Regions from separate parts of the Homo sapiens genome. Here region 2 is linked to region 1. A link means that fine-mapping ties the variant in region 1 to the expression of a gene that starts in the linked region. Tissue or cell type: whole blood. Region 1 holds a variant in brackets; the other region holds the start of a gene. All regions are shown on one strand. Distances are between the middles of the regions.

Evidence for each region. PIP is the estimated chance that this variant, and not a neighbour inherited with it, causes the effect.
Region 2: it holds the start of BOK, and the variant in region 1 is fine-mapped to the expression of BOK in whole blood (TOPMed, PIP above 0.99).

The regions. Positions count from the first base shown.
Region 1 is chr2:241,602,115-241,610,213 of GRCh38, forward strand. It overlaps THAP4 (THAP domain containing 4), which reads right to left. Exons shown (of 6, transcript NM_015963.6): 3 at 4,200-4,359; 4 at 856-965. Among named protein-coding and RNA genes, the nearest start is that of THAP4, 31 kb to the right of the region's middle. RefSeq lists enhancers at 6,350-6,519, 7,426-7,927, 7,928-8,099 and a silencer at 7,878-8,099. The variant CA/C (reference allele first, on the strand shown) is at 4,866.
Region 2 is chr2:241,554,515-241,562,607 of GRCh38, forward strand. BOK (BCL2 family apoptosis regulator BOK) reads left to right here and starts at 4,231. Exons shown (of 5, transcript NM_032515.5): 1 at 4,231-4,479; 2 at 4,941-5,189; 3 at 7,834-7,962. The coding sequence starts at 4,970. It overlaps BOK-AS1 (BOK antisense RNA 1), which reads right to left and starts at 4,629. Exons shown (of 2, transcript NR_033346.1): 1 at 4,263-4,629. RefSeq lists silencers at 4,894-4,973, 5,004-5,073, 5,124-5,253.

The DNA of each region.
Region 1 (8,099 bases):
GGAAGCAACGATATTTCTCCTCCTCCCCACTTCACCCTGTGGATACGGAGGGAAAGCCACAACTCTCCTCACAGAACAGGCAGGTGCTCTATGGAAGGCCACCCTCTCCAGACTGGGCCCCAGCCCTCCCACCTCCACCCACCAATCAGCCTGGCAGAACCACCCCTAGCACATACAGTGGCAGAAGTCGCAGGTGGGAATGGACGTCCAGGAAGAAACACTGATCTAGAGTCACGCAGGCTGGTTTTTTTTTTTTTCTTTTTTTTTTGAGACAGAATCTCGCTCTGTTGCCCAGGCTGGAGTGCAGTGGCGCATTCTTGGCTCACCGCAACCTCTGCCTCCCAGGTTCAAGTGATTCTCCTGCCTCAGCCTCCCAAGTGGCTTGGGATTACAGGCATGCACCACCACACCCAGCTAATTTTTGTATTTTTAGTAGAGACGGGATTTCAGTATGTTGGCCAGGCTGGTCTTGAACTCCTGACCTCAAGTGATCTGCCCACCTAGGCCTCCCAAAGTGCTGGGATTACAGGCGTGAGCCACTGTGCCCAACCTGTTTTCCAGCAATTCCTAATGAATGCACACAGCTGATGGCCATTTCTGCAGACGTGGCACTGGGTAAACGGGCCCTCATGGTCAGGGGGCTGCACGCACACAACCTGTGTGCCGGAGGCCCCTACAGCTACACAGTCGGCCCCGCAGGCTCCCAGGACCACTCTCAACACTCAGGGCCATCCCCACGGTCCCCACCAGCACATGCCTCAGCAGGGTTGCACATGGGCATCCCTGCACCCCTGCTTCGAATGCAGGCAGCAGCCTCCCATGGCCAGCCCTCCCGCCCCGCAAGCTGGGCCTCACCTGTGTTCTGGGCGCTGACAAAGGCCACCTTGTTGGTGTCGGGCTTGAGGCGAATGAAGCCACACTCTCTGTGCATCGGCTTGCGCGTGTCCGGGTGGAAGGAGTTGAACCTGGACGGGAAGTTGGAGTTGAGAAGCCCAGGCACTGGCCTCCAAGATGGCGTGGGCTGCGTGGATGCCAGAACTGTCCAGGGTGCCCTCCAGGTGGCTGCTCCAGCCACACCCGCACACCTGTCTGCCCCTACCACCACCTTGCTCATTTTGGCTGTGTCTGTCTTACCTGCTGACCCTCCACTCCTGAAGACGGGCTGTTCCAGCCACGCCCACACACCTGCCCGCCCCCTCCACCACCTTGCTCATTTTGGCTGTGTCTGTCTTGCCTGCTGACCCTCAGCTCCTGAAGACGGGCTGTTCCAGCCACACCCGCACACCTGCCCGCCCCCTCCAGCGCCTTGCTCATTTTGGCTGTGTCTGTCTTACCTGCTGACCCTCAGCTCCTGAAGACGGGCTGTTCCAGCCACACCCGCACACCTGCCCGCCCCCTCCACCACCTTGCTCATTTTGGCTGTGTCTGTCTTGCCTGCTGACCCTCAGCTCCTGAAGACAGCACTGTTCTTAATCACCTCAGGGCATATCCTTGCCCTGGGCCCGTTAGCCCAGGCCTCACACAGTGTCAGCCCTCAGCACTCCCTTGCAGTAAACCTCACCCTAACACAATCTTTCTCTTTTGAGCTATGCTCTTGTGTAAGAATCTAATCAATTCCTACGGTAAAAAACAGAACAGGTGCTGAGTTATGGTATGGTTTCTTATCACCCTTCATCATTAGTGCAAATTCTCAACAGTAAAAGACAGGCACCTGCATCTTGAACTGAGGGCACAAAACCACGGCTTAAAAACTAACTCGCTGGCATGGTGACTCAAGGCCGTAATCCCAGCACTTCAGGGGCCCAGTCGGGTAGATCTCTTGAGCCTAGGAATTTGAGACAGGGCTGGGCAACACAGACCCTGTTTCTACAAAAATAAAAACAAAAAAACCAAACCAAAAAAAAAAAAGCCTCATTTATCATTTCACCAACCTTATGAGTTTCTATAGGGAATCCATCTCTATGATTCTTAGAGATAAACTTTATTTATTTATTTTTTTGCTCTGTCACCCAGGCTCGTCGCGGTCTCAGCTCAGTGAAACCTCCGCTTCCTGGGTTGAAATGATTCTCCTGTCTCAGCCTCCTGAGTAGCTGGGATTACAGGCGCCCACCACACCCGGCTAATTTATTTATTTATTTATTTATTTATTTTTTGAGACAGAGTTTCTCTCTTGTTGCCCAGGCTGGAGTGCAATGGCGCTATCTTGGCTCACTGCAACCTCCGCCTCCTGAGTTCAAGCGATTCTCCTGCCTCAGCCTTACCGAGTAGCTGGGATTACAGGCATGCGCCACCATGCCCGGCTAATTTTGTAATTTTAGTAGAGACCAGGTTTCTCCATGTTGGTCAGGCTGATCTTGAACTCCCAACCTCAGGTGATCTGCCCACCTCAGCCTCTCAAAGTGCTGGGATTACAGGTGTGAGCCACTGTGCCCAGCCACACACCCGGCTAATTTTTGTATTTTTGTATTTTTTTTTAGTAGAGACACAATTTCACCACATTGGCCAGGCTGGTCTCGAACTCTTGACTTCTAGTGATCCACCTGCCTTGACCTCCCAAAGTGCTGGGATTACAGGCGTCAGCCACCGCACCTGGCCAAGATAAACTTATTTATTTATTAAAACAAATTTTTTTAGGGTCTCACTGTGTTGCCCAGGCTGGTCTTGGACTCCTGGACTCAAGTGATCCACCCGCCTTGGCCTCCCAAAGTGCTGGGATTACAGGCACGAGCCACCGCGCTGGGCCAAGATAAATTTCTGTTGGGCTAGTGATGGTGCTACACCTTCTAGAATGGTACATGCTCACTAACATAACCCCGACAAAGAAATACATTTATACCATATTCTAGGACACACACACAAACACACATACCATCACATTTACTGAAATATATTTTCCACTCTGGTTCATTTTTCTTCGAATGCTAGTCACAAAATTGACTTTCTGACCTTTTCGTGGGTTATAATCTATAGTTTAAAAAAGACTGCTTGGGTTCTGGGTTATTTTGTATTACCCAGAATTCTCACCTTTTGGTTTATGTGCAGATGTATTACTTTGACCTCATGCATTCAATCAATAATAATATAAAAAGGTAGGAGATATTTTTAAAAACAATGAGATCTTCTAAAAGGGGATGGAGGGTCTCAGAGCTGGGGGTCTGAGAGCCAGGTGCCCAGCCCCGTTCTGAAACTGCTAGGCATTATACAAATAGTACCAAGTTGGTTTAATAAGATTCTTAACATATAGTTGTGTAATGGAGACTAAGGGAGGGTTTGCTTTTTATATTTTGTTTAAACTTTAAAAAAACTGTGTATTACTTCTATAATTAAAAAATAAAGATACTTCAACCACTCCCCATCCCTGGTGGCTCTCCTCTACTTCAGAGGCCTACACTGCTATCTCCCTAAAAGCAGGCAATTTCTCCACCTGTGGGGAGCAGGTGGTGGGAAGGGATACTGAGGGACCTCAAGGGGCTTTTGCTTTCTTGTACGGTAAGAATATGAGAACCACATACTAACAGCTTCCTTGTGACCCCAAATAGCTCAGGGGTACGTGTAAAATACAAACATGCACTATTATTTTCAGTAATATTGGGTGACTAATTTTTTTCTTTTTTTTTTTGAGACAGGTTCTCACTCTGTCACCCAGGCTGGAGTACAGTGTTATGATCACAGCTCACTGTAGCCTTGGCCCTCCCTGGGTTCAAGCAATCCTCCCACCTCAGTTTCTCGAGTAGCTGGGACTACAGGCATGTGTCACCACACCTGGCTAAATACTTTTCAGTAGAGACAAGGTCTCACTATGTTGCCCAGGCTGGTCTTCAATTCCTAAGCTCAAGCAATCCTCCTGACTCAGCCTCTAAAGTGCTGGGATTACAGGTATGAGCTACCGCACTGGCCAGGGTGATTAATTTTGATACATAAATTAAGTACATGCATTTGTTTTTATGTTTGGATTAACAAGCCTGTAATTTGGTGGTCAGCTTAATATCTCCAAAAATATAACAGAACCAGAAAGTATCATTTTTACCACTCTGTGTCTCAGTTGCACATTCAGGCAAGAGGACACCTTTCTGAAATAGATGGACAAGTTCCTTTTACACCTTCCTGCTTGGCCTTTGTCTTTGATCAGTCTGGAATTATTTTCAGAGACCTAGGCGGCCCATGAGTCAAGCAGGGTGGGGTGGAGGGAGACAACTTACGAGAAGTTCAGCATGGGCTGGCCCACGTGGGAGATGTGAACCTCCTCCAGGTACTGGAAGGGCTGCAGTGTGGGGTAGGTCCCGGCTCCAGGTGGGTCCGACAGCCAGGTGCCCAGCATCCAGGACAGTGGCTCCACCACTGGGTTCATCTTGGGGGGCTCTGAGGACAAAAGAATGAGACTATCAGTGGCCTCCCTCCAACCATGCCTTGCTGAGCTTTAAGCAGAATGCACGTTCCATATCGACGCTTGCTTCTGGTGGCCACAGCTAATCCTGGGGGACCTGTCAAGAGCGGGAGAAAATGGTCAAGCAACTGTAAATGTCATAGTGAAAGATCCAGCTTCAGAAGCCTCTGCAGTTCCTGCAGAGAAAAGAGATCCAACAGGGGCCAGGCAGGGCGCAAGCAAAGAGGCCTACACTGCTATCTCCCTAAAAGCAGGCAATTTCTCCACCTGTGGGGTGCAGGTGGTGGGAAGGGATACTGAGGGACCTCAAGGGGCTTTTGCTTTCTTGTACAGTTAAGAATATGAGAACCACATACTAACAGCTTCCTTGTGACCCCAAATAGCTCAGGGGTCCTCCATGTCCTACAGCAAGGCTGAAAGCAGCTCACACGGGAGGCACGGTGCCCTGGCGTGAAGAGTGTGTGAAGGAGACAAAGAGCAT[CA/C]GGGAGAAAATGAAAGGGGATGCAGGGTCTCGGAGCAGCCAGAGTGTGAGGGCCCAGGGGCAGGCGGGGTTTAAAAGGGAAGTAAGACCCCGCTTCCCTGAGGAGGGGCTGGGGCTTCACAGCAGCCTGTGTAGTGGCCAGGAGACCCCTTTAGAAGGTCTCCTGTGGGGTTCAGTCTCTCATCCCACTAAGTGTGAAGGATGACACCACAGGCCTGGAACTCAGAGGTGGGGGTGCAGTGACAGGACAGCAGGGAGGGGCCGCTGGGTTGGCTGTTCTGCTGGGCGAACTCAAAGGGACCCCTGCTTCCTGCCTCGCTCAGCAAGGACTGGGTGCTCCCGAGCGGCTTTTCAGGATTCACTCACATGACCCTCACCCTGGCTGGATGCACGGGCCCTGCTCTTACTCATTTTCTAAGGGAGACCTGTGCGGGGACCACAGGAAAGCCCCACTGCATGCTACCCATCAGGGGCGCTGGAAGAGAAGGACTGATCCCCAGAGGCAATCCCAAAGACCTGCTTCCCAGGCCTGCTTAACCCTCAAGTCTCAGTGCTTCAATTGACAGAACGGACACTGACACCCAGGAGCAGCAGCAGGGACAGAAGCAGCTCTGTGGCCGCACAAGCCTCATCTACGGAGCCCAAAGATGCCCAAGCACAGAGACCGGCCTGCACATCAGGACTGACCCCCGGCGTCTCCTCCAGGCCCGCGCAAGCAGAAGACGGACTGACGGGGACAGGATCAGGACTGACCCCCAGTGTCTCCTCCAGGCCCGCGCAAGCAGAAGACGGACTGACGGGGACAGGATCGGACTGATGCCCAGTGTCTCCTCCAGGCCCGCGCAAGCAGAAGACGGACTGATGGGGACAGGATTGGACTGACCCCCAGTGTCTCCTCCAGGCCCGCGCAAGCAGAAGACAGCTGACGGGGACAGGATCAGGACTGACCCCCGGCGTCTCCTCCAGGCCCGCAAAAGCAGAAGACAGACTGATGGGGACGGGATCAGGACTGACCCCCAGTGTCTCCTCCAGGCCCGCGCAAGCAGAAGACGGACTGACGGGGACAGGAGTTCTTGGAACCATCGCAGCTTCTGAAATTACACAACCTTTGGATTATAAATTCCAGGAAGTCTGGGAAAAGAAGATCGGGGGAAAGGAAAGCAAAGGCTCTGGGGGTGGAGGAGACCACGTCCAAGAACAGCTTGGAACCAAGGAGGGCCGCACATGTGGCCTGGCCCAGTGGCCGAGCCCTGGGGCCCAGAGTGAGAACCGAGGGTGGAGAGCAGGTAATGAGCACTCTGCCTGCTGGCTGCACAGGGCAAACATAGGTGACCTGAAGCAGGAGAGTGGGAGAGTCCGCTCCTTTTCCAGACTGGCCTGTGGTCTTTCAGTATTTCCTTTTTTGTTTTTCTTAAATGATGATTTAAAAATTTTTTATATCAGTATTTCCTCCTCAGACTCCCGGTGAAAAGTGGGAAGGTGAGGATGGGAATATTTGGACTTCAATAAAACTTTCCTAATTAGACAATAAGAGAATTTTTAAATCAAGATTTTCGTTGCAATCTTTCACGGAGATAAGGAATAGAAGCTTCTGAATCCAATGTGTGGCCTCTGGAACGAGGCTTGTGATCTATCATAGCTGATCAATTCTTTCATCATTCAACGTGCTGGACACTCTTCCAGGGAGAAGCTGACGGAACAGTCATACATCCCTACGGAGCATACATCCTAGCGAGGGCAGACAATACACAAGAAATGAGTGAATGATGCAGAACTGAATGTACATTAGGAGATGAGGCAGAAAGGGAGACAGGGCTGTTGGGGCACTGTGAAAACCTACCCAAAAGGGACAAGGACACCCTCCCTGAGAAGTGTGCACAGACCAGGCAGGGGATCAGGGTCCCTGCAGCTACCCTGGAGAAGAGCAGACCAGGTGGAAGTGCCAGAGACGGAGGTCCTGGGTACGTAGGCCTGGTCTTGCTGGAGAGGAACAGGAGGCCAGTGTGGCCAGGGGAAGGAGATCCTCACCCCTCGGAAGGGCCGTGACCTTGACTCTGAGCAGACAGAAGCCCTCGAGAAGGCTGAGTGGGAGGGACGAGGTCTCTGACTGCAACCACAGGAAGCCAGGGAGGGCAATGGCAAAAACCCTTGTGGCAGAGGAGGGTGGCCTGGGCCAGGTGGCCGTGGTGGAGGCAGTGGAAAGGACCTAGCTTCTGGATCTATCTTGAAGGCAGAGCCACCCGGATGTGCTGATGGTTTGGATGTGAAACACGTAAGAAAAGATGGTAACGGAGGTTTCTGGCCTGAGCAATTGAGAAGACAAGTTACCATTAATGGAGAAAAGGAAGAATGAGAAGAACCTTGGGAGGTGTGAAACAGCAAAACTCAGTCACCTGGGATAGCCCAAGTCCTAAGATGGGCTAAACAAACACCATAATTTCTCAGACAGCCAGCTATAGCCTTGGAGACCTTTCAGTTTGGTAGACTTTATCCAGCTCAGCACTGAAAAGAAAGAGGCTTTGGGCCGGGCGCAATGGCTCACTGAACCTGTAATCCCAGCACTTTGGGATGCCGAGACGGGCAGATCACCTCAGGTCAGGAGTTTGAGACCAGCGTGGCCAACGTGGTGAAACGCTGTCTCTATTAAAAATACAAAAATTAGCCGGGCGTGGTGGCACACGCCTGTAATCCCAGTTACTCGGGAGGCTGAGGTACAAGAATTGCTTGAACCCGGGAGGCGGAGGTTGCAGTGAGCCGAGGTCGTGTCACTGCTCTCCAGCCTGGGCGACAGAGACGTTTTCTCAAAAAAAAAAAAAGAAAGAAAGAGGCTTTGCAAACCTCAGGTTTTTGGGCCGGCTCTCTGGCCTGTGCGGAGCACACCCCACAGCGACTGCCACGGGGCTCTGGCTCTCCTGGGACCGGGTGGACCCACTTCCACTGGTGAGCGCAGCCTGCATGGGAGCTGAACCCTGTGGGAAGCGGCACCCCGGGCGCTGGGGAGCAGCGATCCAGAGTCCAGGTTCTGAGCTGCTGCACCGGGGCCGCGATCTCCACCCCTCACGCCCGAGTCCCCGGCACGGCCACCACCGGCCCCTGGGTCCCGAGGGCCCCGAGGAAGAGGCCAAGGGGCCTGGCGGCGCCCCCCAGGGTCCCAGTGGAACAGGGGCACCAGGGCCGCGGCGCCGGGCATGGCCTTCACACTCCCCACGAGGCAGGACAGCCCCGGGCTAGGGT
Region 2 (8,093 bases), 48 kb before region 1:
GGTATGAGACCCAGGCCTGACTGCTTAACACCTTCCCCATGTCCAGCCACAGCTGGCTTGGAAATGGACAGAGTACAGAAGCTGCCCACCCCAAGGGATCTCCCAGAGCTACCTGGACAGCCCGACTTTTTTCCACTGGCAAAGCCTGAACTTGTGAGGTATATACAGGGAGCTGTGGGCTTTATCCTGCAATTACACCAGGACAGTCTGTCTGAGAGTGGAGCCATCACAGGGGAGCACAGATGGAAAGAGACTCCTGGATCCAGCTATGCCTGAAACCAACCGACCTCTCTCTGGTCACACAAATCAACAAACTGCCCTGTGCTTAAGCCAGTCTGGTGGGCTGGTATCAGCGCTCAGAAGCCCACTCACCAACCAGGGACCGAGTTCCATGCTAGGTCAACACTGGGGCAGAGAGAGGAGTCAGTTGCATGGCAAGAGTGGATGTAAGAGTTCTGCAGAGACAGAAAATCAGGGCCAAAGGTGACCGGAGAAATGTAGGCTCCCAAGAAGTCAAAGCACTCTTGGGAAATTGAGGGCTGGGACTGGGCCTCCTCCAGGTCTCAGTGGACAGGAAGACCTCAGCTAACTCCAGCATGACCCAAGTTTTTTAAGGTCTGAATAAGGGTTTGCGGTCTAGGTACTCCAGATTGCTTAATCTCCTCATCTGCTCTCTTTTTAAAATTTGTTTTAGAAACCCGTCTTTGCTAAGTTGCCCAGGCTGAGTGCAGTGGCTATTCACAGGCACTACAGCCCTGAACTCCTGGGCTCAAGCAATCCTCTTGCTTCAGTCTCCCAAGGAGCTGGGACTACTAGTGCGGTGTCACCATGCTGGGCTTGATCTCTTCATAAACACTGAGGTCATTTTTTTTTTTTTTTGAGACAAAGTCTCGTTCTGTTGCCCAGGCTGGAGTGCAGTGGCATGAGCTCGGCTCACCGCAACCTCCGACTCCTGGGTTCAAGCAATTCTCCTGTCTCAGCCTCCCGAGTAGCTGGGATTACAGACATGCGCCACCACGCCTGGCTAATTTTTTGTATTTTTAGTAGAAACGGAGTCTCACCTTGTTGGTCAAGCTGGTCTCGAACTCCTAACCTCAGGTGATCCACATGCCTCAGCCTCCCAAAGTGCTGGGATTACAGGCATGAGCCACCACGCCTGGCACACTTAGGTCATTTTCAGTTCCTTACTGCTAGCAATGTTCCATATTGAACATCCAGAGACACAGCTTTACCTGGTTTCTGCAGCTCCTGGGATGCAGAACATGTCTATCAATTATGCCCAGTGGCCCACTACCCCCATGTCAGAGCCCAGGAGACGGCTCCAACAGGAGACAGGAAGCAGGAAGTATGAGTTCATTCTGCACAGGAGGAAACTGAGCCTGTGAATGGGGCAGGAAGTTGCCTGAGGCTACACAGCGGGAAGGTTGCAGGTGTGAGCTTCCTGGTCTCCTGCCTGCAAGTACAGGCTCTTCCCCTGACAGAGGTACTTCAGGAACCATGGAGTTAGACCCCAAGGTTTACAGTCTGGCCATGCCCAGTCTTGCAGTGACTCCTTGGGCGAGATCTTTTCCCTCTCTGCATTTCTGTAATGCTATCTACAGGGAATCCCAAACCTGACTGCTCTTCAGAAATCTGAGGCGCACACTGTCCAAGGAGCTCTAGACTCTACATTAAAGAGTTCATTAAAATGCACCCTCAGATTTTACTGTACTACAGCTTTTCTGAAAAAGCAGCTAACAATGACTGAGCACTTACTACATGACATGGATTAAGAATTCAGTCCTCCCAGGCTGGGCGCTGTGGCTTACGCCTATAATCCCAGAACTTTGTGATGCCAAGGCAGGTAGATCACGAGGTCAAGAGATCGAGACCATCCTGGCCAACATGGTGAAACCCCCTCTCTACCAAAAATACAAACAATTAGCCGGGCGTGGTGTCAGGTGCCTGTAGTCCCAGCTACTCGGGAGGCTGAGGCAGGAGAATCGCTGGAGCCCAGGAGGCGGGGTTGCAGTGAGCCGAGTTTACGCCATTGCACTCCAGCCTGGCAACAGAGCGAGACTCCGTCTCAAAAAAAAAAAAAAAAAAAAAGAATTCAGTCCTCTCAACAATCCTAGGAGGTAGGTATTATTATTCTTCCTACTTCCCAGACAGGAAAGTCATAGCAGATAGAAGTTCCATAGCTTTCCTAGCTTCTGGTAATGTTCCTGACAGGTTTCGGTATTAAAATTACATTGACCTCATAAAATGAGTTGGGAAATACTCCCTCATTTTTAGTCTCTGTGCAGGTTTGTATGAGACTGGTGGTATTTTTTTAACTGTTGAGAAGAATTTCTCAATGAAACCATCTGAACCTAGAATTTTCTTTGTGGGAAGATTTTAAATTACAGATTCAATGCATTTAATTGGTGTAGGACTATCCAGATTTTCTATTTCTTTTAGTGTCAGTTTTGGTAAGTTGTGTATCATCTAAAATTTCAAATGCACTGTCAAAAAGTCCTCCATACTATCTTTTTATCCCTTTAATGCTTGTAGTATCTACAGTGATGTCCTCTTTTTCATTCTTGATAGTGAAATTTGTGTTATCTTTTTTCTTACTCAATCTTTCTGGGGATTTATCAGTTCTATTAATCTCTTCAAAGAACCAATTTTTGGCTTTGTTGATTTTCTCTATTTTTTGCTTTATTCCATTAATTTCTGCTCTTATTTTTATTATTTCCTTTCATCTTTAGTTTTATTGTTCTTTTCTAGCTTCTTGAGTGGAAGCTTAGAGCAGTAATTTTATTTTTCTTTTTCCTTTTTTTTTTTTTTTTTTGAGATGGAATCACACTCTGTTGTCCAGGCTGGAGTGCAGGTGGGATGATCTCTGCTCACTGCAACCTTCGCCTCCCAGGTTCAAGCAATTCTCCTGCCTCAGCCTCCTTAGTAGCTGGGATTACAGACACCTGCCACCACACCCAACTCATTTTTTGTATCTCTAGTAGAGACGGGGTTTTCACCATTTTGACCCGGCTGGTCTCAAACTCCTGAGCTCAGGTGATCTGCCCACCTAGGCCTCCCAAAATGCTGGGATTACAGGTCTGAGTCATTTCACCTGGCCTAATTTTCAATCCTTCTTCTAAAGCTATCAAATTTCCTCTAAGCAGTGTTTTAGTTGCACTGTACAGCATTTGATATGTCTTATTTTTCACTGTTCTTGTCAACATATTTTAATCTTCCACTGTGATTATTGACCCATTGATTATTTAGAAGTGTGACATGTAATTTCCAAGCATTTGCAGATTTTCCAGTAATTTTTCTGTTATTGACTTTTAATTCAGAGAGGACACACTGTAAGATTTCAATCCGTTGAGATTTGCTGAGACTTGTATAAGGTCCATGATATGGTCTATTTCGATAAACATCCTATGTGCACATGGGAAGAATAAGTATTTTATAGTGTTGTACACACGTGAATTAGGCCAAGTTGGTTAATCCTATTGTTCAAACTGTGTGAGGTTGATTCAAGGATAAAGAAATAAACCAGTGGGATAGAGTTCCGAGACACACACACACACACACACACACTCTTCAGCTGATTTATGTTGAGATGTTGGGGACTCCTCCAATTCGGTGGAAAAAAAATGATGCTTTTCAATAAATGATGCCAGGTCAATTGGATATCTACACGAAAAAAAATGAGCTCTAGCCCCGTACCACACCATTCACAATAATTAATATGTAATCAATCATAGATCTAAATATGAGCCCTAAAACAAGCTTCTAAAAGGAAATACAGGAGGATATCCCAATAAAAAGGTACTAACCATAAAGAAAATATTGATAAATTGGACATCACTAAGAGTAACTCCTGTTCATCCAAAGCAAAAGTAAACCACAAAATAGAGGAAGATATTTGCAATAACTTCAATAAATGCGAATCCAATAATCCATCTACAATACAAAGGGCATGCGTCCGGACCAAGAACACGTCTCCAGACTCTGGAAAGAACCTCTACGAACGAAGAAGACAACCCAATTTTCAAATGGACCCCGGGGAACACCCAGGCGGCTGGGGCTGGCTCTAGGTCCCCACTGCTCTGCCTTGCGGGGGCCGCTCCGGCCTGGTCGCCTTCTCCGGGCGCATCCAGGGAACTCGCTCGGTCCTCCTTAAGCGGGGAAGCTCGGAAAGCGTCTCCCCGACTCCGCCCCCAGGGTTGCCTTTCCCTTAGAAGGCCAAGCCCCAAGCCCAGCCTCTCGCCAGCTGGGAGTCGCGCGCTGCCCACCTCGCTGCCCAGGCCCCCGACGCCGCGGCAGGAGCCCCCCAAGAGCGCGGGAAGCCCCGTGGACCTGGCGCTCCCGGCTCGGGCGTGGACGGGGCGGGCGCCGGGGCGGGGCGCGCGTCCTCGCGGGTCTGAATGGAAGGGTCGAGGTCGTCGTCGGCGGCGAGCAGATCCTGAAGCCAGAACTCCACCCCGGCGCCCGCGCCATGCGGCGGGAGAGGTGAGCGCGGCGGGCGTGGCGTCCGTGCCGGGGTGCCCGGGGTGCCACGGGAACGGCGAGGCCGGGGACACGCGCGCAGGACGCCAGCGGCGGAGGTGGGCGGCCCCGGGCCGGGGCGGGGAGGGCCGGGTCCTGGCAGTCGCCGTGGGGGACGCGCTGGGCTGTGCCCTCCGCCCCCGCCGCCCACGCACTCGTCTTCGAGGGCGGGCCCGGCGGCCCCGGAGCAAACCGCCGTCTCCCCGCGGCCCCACCGGTCCCTGGCAGCCTCGGGGAATGTCTGTAGCTGAATTCGGGCTCTGAAAGAAGGTGGCGCTGGGTTTTTAAAGATTTGGGGCACAAAAAACGAGAGCGGACCCGGCGCCGGCTACGGCCCTTCCCGAGGGCCACGCCCAGCCCGGCGCCCCGCGCGCCCCGTTCCCCGCGCCGCCTCCCTCCACCCGGCTGAGCGCTTGTGCCCGCAGGTGCGGCGCCCCCCACCCGCGTCGCCGCCATGGAGGTGCTGCGGCGCTCCTCGGTCTTCGCCGCCGAGATCATGGACGCCTTTGACCGCTCGCCCACAGACAAGGAGCTGGTGGCCCAGGCCAAGGCGCTGGGCCGGGAGTACGTGCACGCGCGGCTGCTGCGCGCCGGCCTCTCCTGGAGCGCGCCCGAGCGTGCCGCGCCGGTCCCGGGACGCCTGGCTGAGGTGTGCGCGGTGCTGCTGCGCCTGGGTGAGTGCGCCCTGGTGGGATCCCCAGCTGCGCCTCCTCCCCTGCTGGGCCGCAGCCTCCCTCCGAGGCCGAGATGGGGGTCCGGCCCAGGGGCGCCCACCCCCTGCCTGGGACGGCCAGGCGCTCGGGACAGGGCCACCCAGGCGGGTGCTCCCGGATCTGCCCTCTCAGGCCTCCCACGCCACAGGCCCCCCCATCAGCTGCCTGCTCAGCCCAGATTTCAGTCATGCTGGCCATAAACAATAGAAAGCTCCAGAAAGAATAATCTATTAGTGGGTGGCTAAGCTTCCACAGTGACCCTTGTTCTCAGCTGGGCACAGAAACCCTTTGTAGGAGCACGTGTCCCGATGTTTATTTTGGAAAACAGATTCTTGCTGTTACTGGCCGAGATCCCGCCCGCTGCCCTCTGGATTCCGAGGCCTCCGAGGCCCCCCCATTGGAAACTGCGCCCACCGGGCTGGGTAGCCAAAACCTCAGTATTCGTTGGTGCTGTGAGGACATCTGGGGGTGCTCGGTTCTGGGGTCACACACGGTCCACTGGCTGCCCCCACCGTCTCCAAGGTCTGGACCCAAGAGGGAGGGACCAGCCCCACTGTGACTGTCCAGTCCCCTCACCACAGCTGGGCTGTGGCCGTCACCTGGGAATGTTTATGTGATGCCCGAAGAGGGCACATGGGGCGCCTGTGGCTGAGCCCGGGAAGGGGAGGTGACAGCATAGGTGAAACTGAATCGGTGGCTCTCCAGGCAGGGGGTTGGAGTCGGAGGGCACGACCCCGTGAGGGGACACGCTGCCTCCTCTCAGGCTGGCGCTGGCATGGGCTCTAGGTGGCCCCTGCCCTTACGTGGTGGGCTGGGCCCAGAGAGCAAAGCTGTGTAGACCTGGCCTGCCCAGGAGTGTGTGTGGGGTGCAGACAGAATCCATGGGGACCAGCACAGAGCCTCCAGGAGGAGGTGGAGTCCCATCTGAGAAGTTCAGAAGGAGGGAGAGGTCTCTGGGTGGGAGCTAGGGGGTTGGTGGGGCTCCATGAGATCCGCCGCCTGCTGCTGCCTCTAGTCGGGCTCTGAGAATGACCCTAGGGGATCCTTTTAGTGGCCTTCTGAAAAGATGATGCCAGACCCCTGGAATGGCTGGGAAGAAGTCCCAGATGTCTAGGGGGACCCCAGAGGGACACAGCTCAGACCTGCATCTGCCCTCACGGCTGCTCAGGGTCAGTCCCTTGAGGCCAGCGCTGTCTCCCTGCCCTTGGGCAGTGCAGACAGGAAGAAGCCCGGGTTGTGTCCCCACCTTCAGTCTGGGGCCAGCCTGCAGCAGCCCCGGAGATCTGTGTTTGGGAGCTGCCGGGTCAGTCCTGGGAATTTCCATGTCGTCCCCCGCCCCCAGCCAGCCTCTCATGGGCTCTGCTCTGCTTCCAGATCTTAATTAATGAGATACAGAGCAGCCTTTATCAGCTGGGATGGTCCGGTCAGCAGCATTACCCTGTTTGCTTTGGCTGGAGAACTGGCCGGGCTGCGGACTCCCAATCCCAGGGCCCTGTGGCATTCTCGGCACCATCTGCCCCGTGCCTGTGCGCTGCTGCTGCCAAGGGTGCCACAGGCAGCACTGGGGCGGTGGGCCTGTAGGGGCCATCCTCGGCTGCCAGGGGCAGGGCTGATGCAGTGCCACCTCCAAGCACATCCCCTTGGCAGCAAGAGCCCAGGTGGGAGCGTGGCAGTGAGGGTGGCCCAGGACAGCGGCCCAGCCAGCCCAGGTGGGAGCGTGGCAGTGCGGGTGGCCCAGGACAGGGGCCCAGCCAGCCCAGGTGGGAGCGTGGCAGTGCGGGTGGCCCAGGACAGCGGCCCAGCCAGCCCAGGTGGGAGCGTGGCAGTGCGGGTGGCCCAGGACAGGGGCCCAGCCAGCCCAGGTGGGAGCGTGGCAGTGCGGGTGGCCCAGGACAGCGGCCCAGCCAGCCCAGGTGGGAGCGTGGCAGTGCGGGTGGCCCAGGACAGGGGCCCAGCCAGCCCAGGTGGGAGCGTGGCAGTGCGGGTGGCCCAGGACAGCGGCCCAGCCAGCCCAGGTGGGAGCGTGGCAGTGCGGGTGGCCCAGGACAGCGGCTCAGCCTCTGCATCTGAGTGGTCCCTGAGCCATGCTAGGGCCTGAGCCGGGCTCTCGGGCTGTCCCCTGCTCTCACCCCAATGCTTTCTCTGCCCAGCCCCTCCCCACGTCGGGCTCCCCTGCTCTCACCCCAGTGCTTTCTCTGCCCAGCCCCTCCCCACGTCGGGGTCTGGCCGTCTGCCTGGTCCCTCCTGCTCTGGGCAGCTCGGCTGCCTGTCGGCTGTGAGTCACCAGCAGGCACGGCCCACGCTCTCGCAGGATTCCCGCCCCACCGGCTTGGCCGGCTAGGCTTAGGGGCTGGCTCGTCAGAGGGGCGGGACTGGGGGCGCCTTCAGTACTTCCTTGGTCTTCTGGTCCCTAGGGGCCAAGGTTGGGGGATGGCCCAAGGGAGGTCAGATGGGGTCAAGTGGAGGTGGGAATCAGACAAGTGAGGAACAGGCTGGAATTCAAGCATGGTCAGGTGGGGGTCAGGTGCAGGGTGTGCCCCAAGCCAGTCGTGTCCCAGGAAGCTGGGACGTGGGCTGCCTCTCACCTGCTCTTGTGACCACACAGGCGATGAGCTGGAGATGATCCGGCCCAGCGTCTACCGCAACGTGGCGCGTCAGCTGCACATCTCCCTGCAGTCTGAGCCTGTGGTGACCGATGCGTTCCTGGCCGTGGCTGGCCACATCTTCTCTGCAGGTATGCCCAGCCTGCCCGTCCCATGGGACCTCAGGGAGGGATCCAGGGTCTGTGGCTCAGGCTCACAGGGACCCCACGAGCTGGCCCCCACCCATCCTGGCGCTGCCCAGTGCCCACCGGTGCCATCTCAC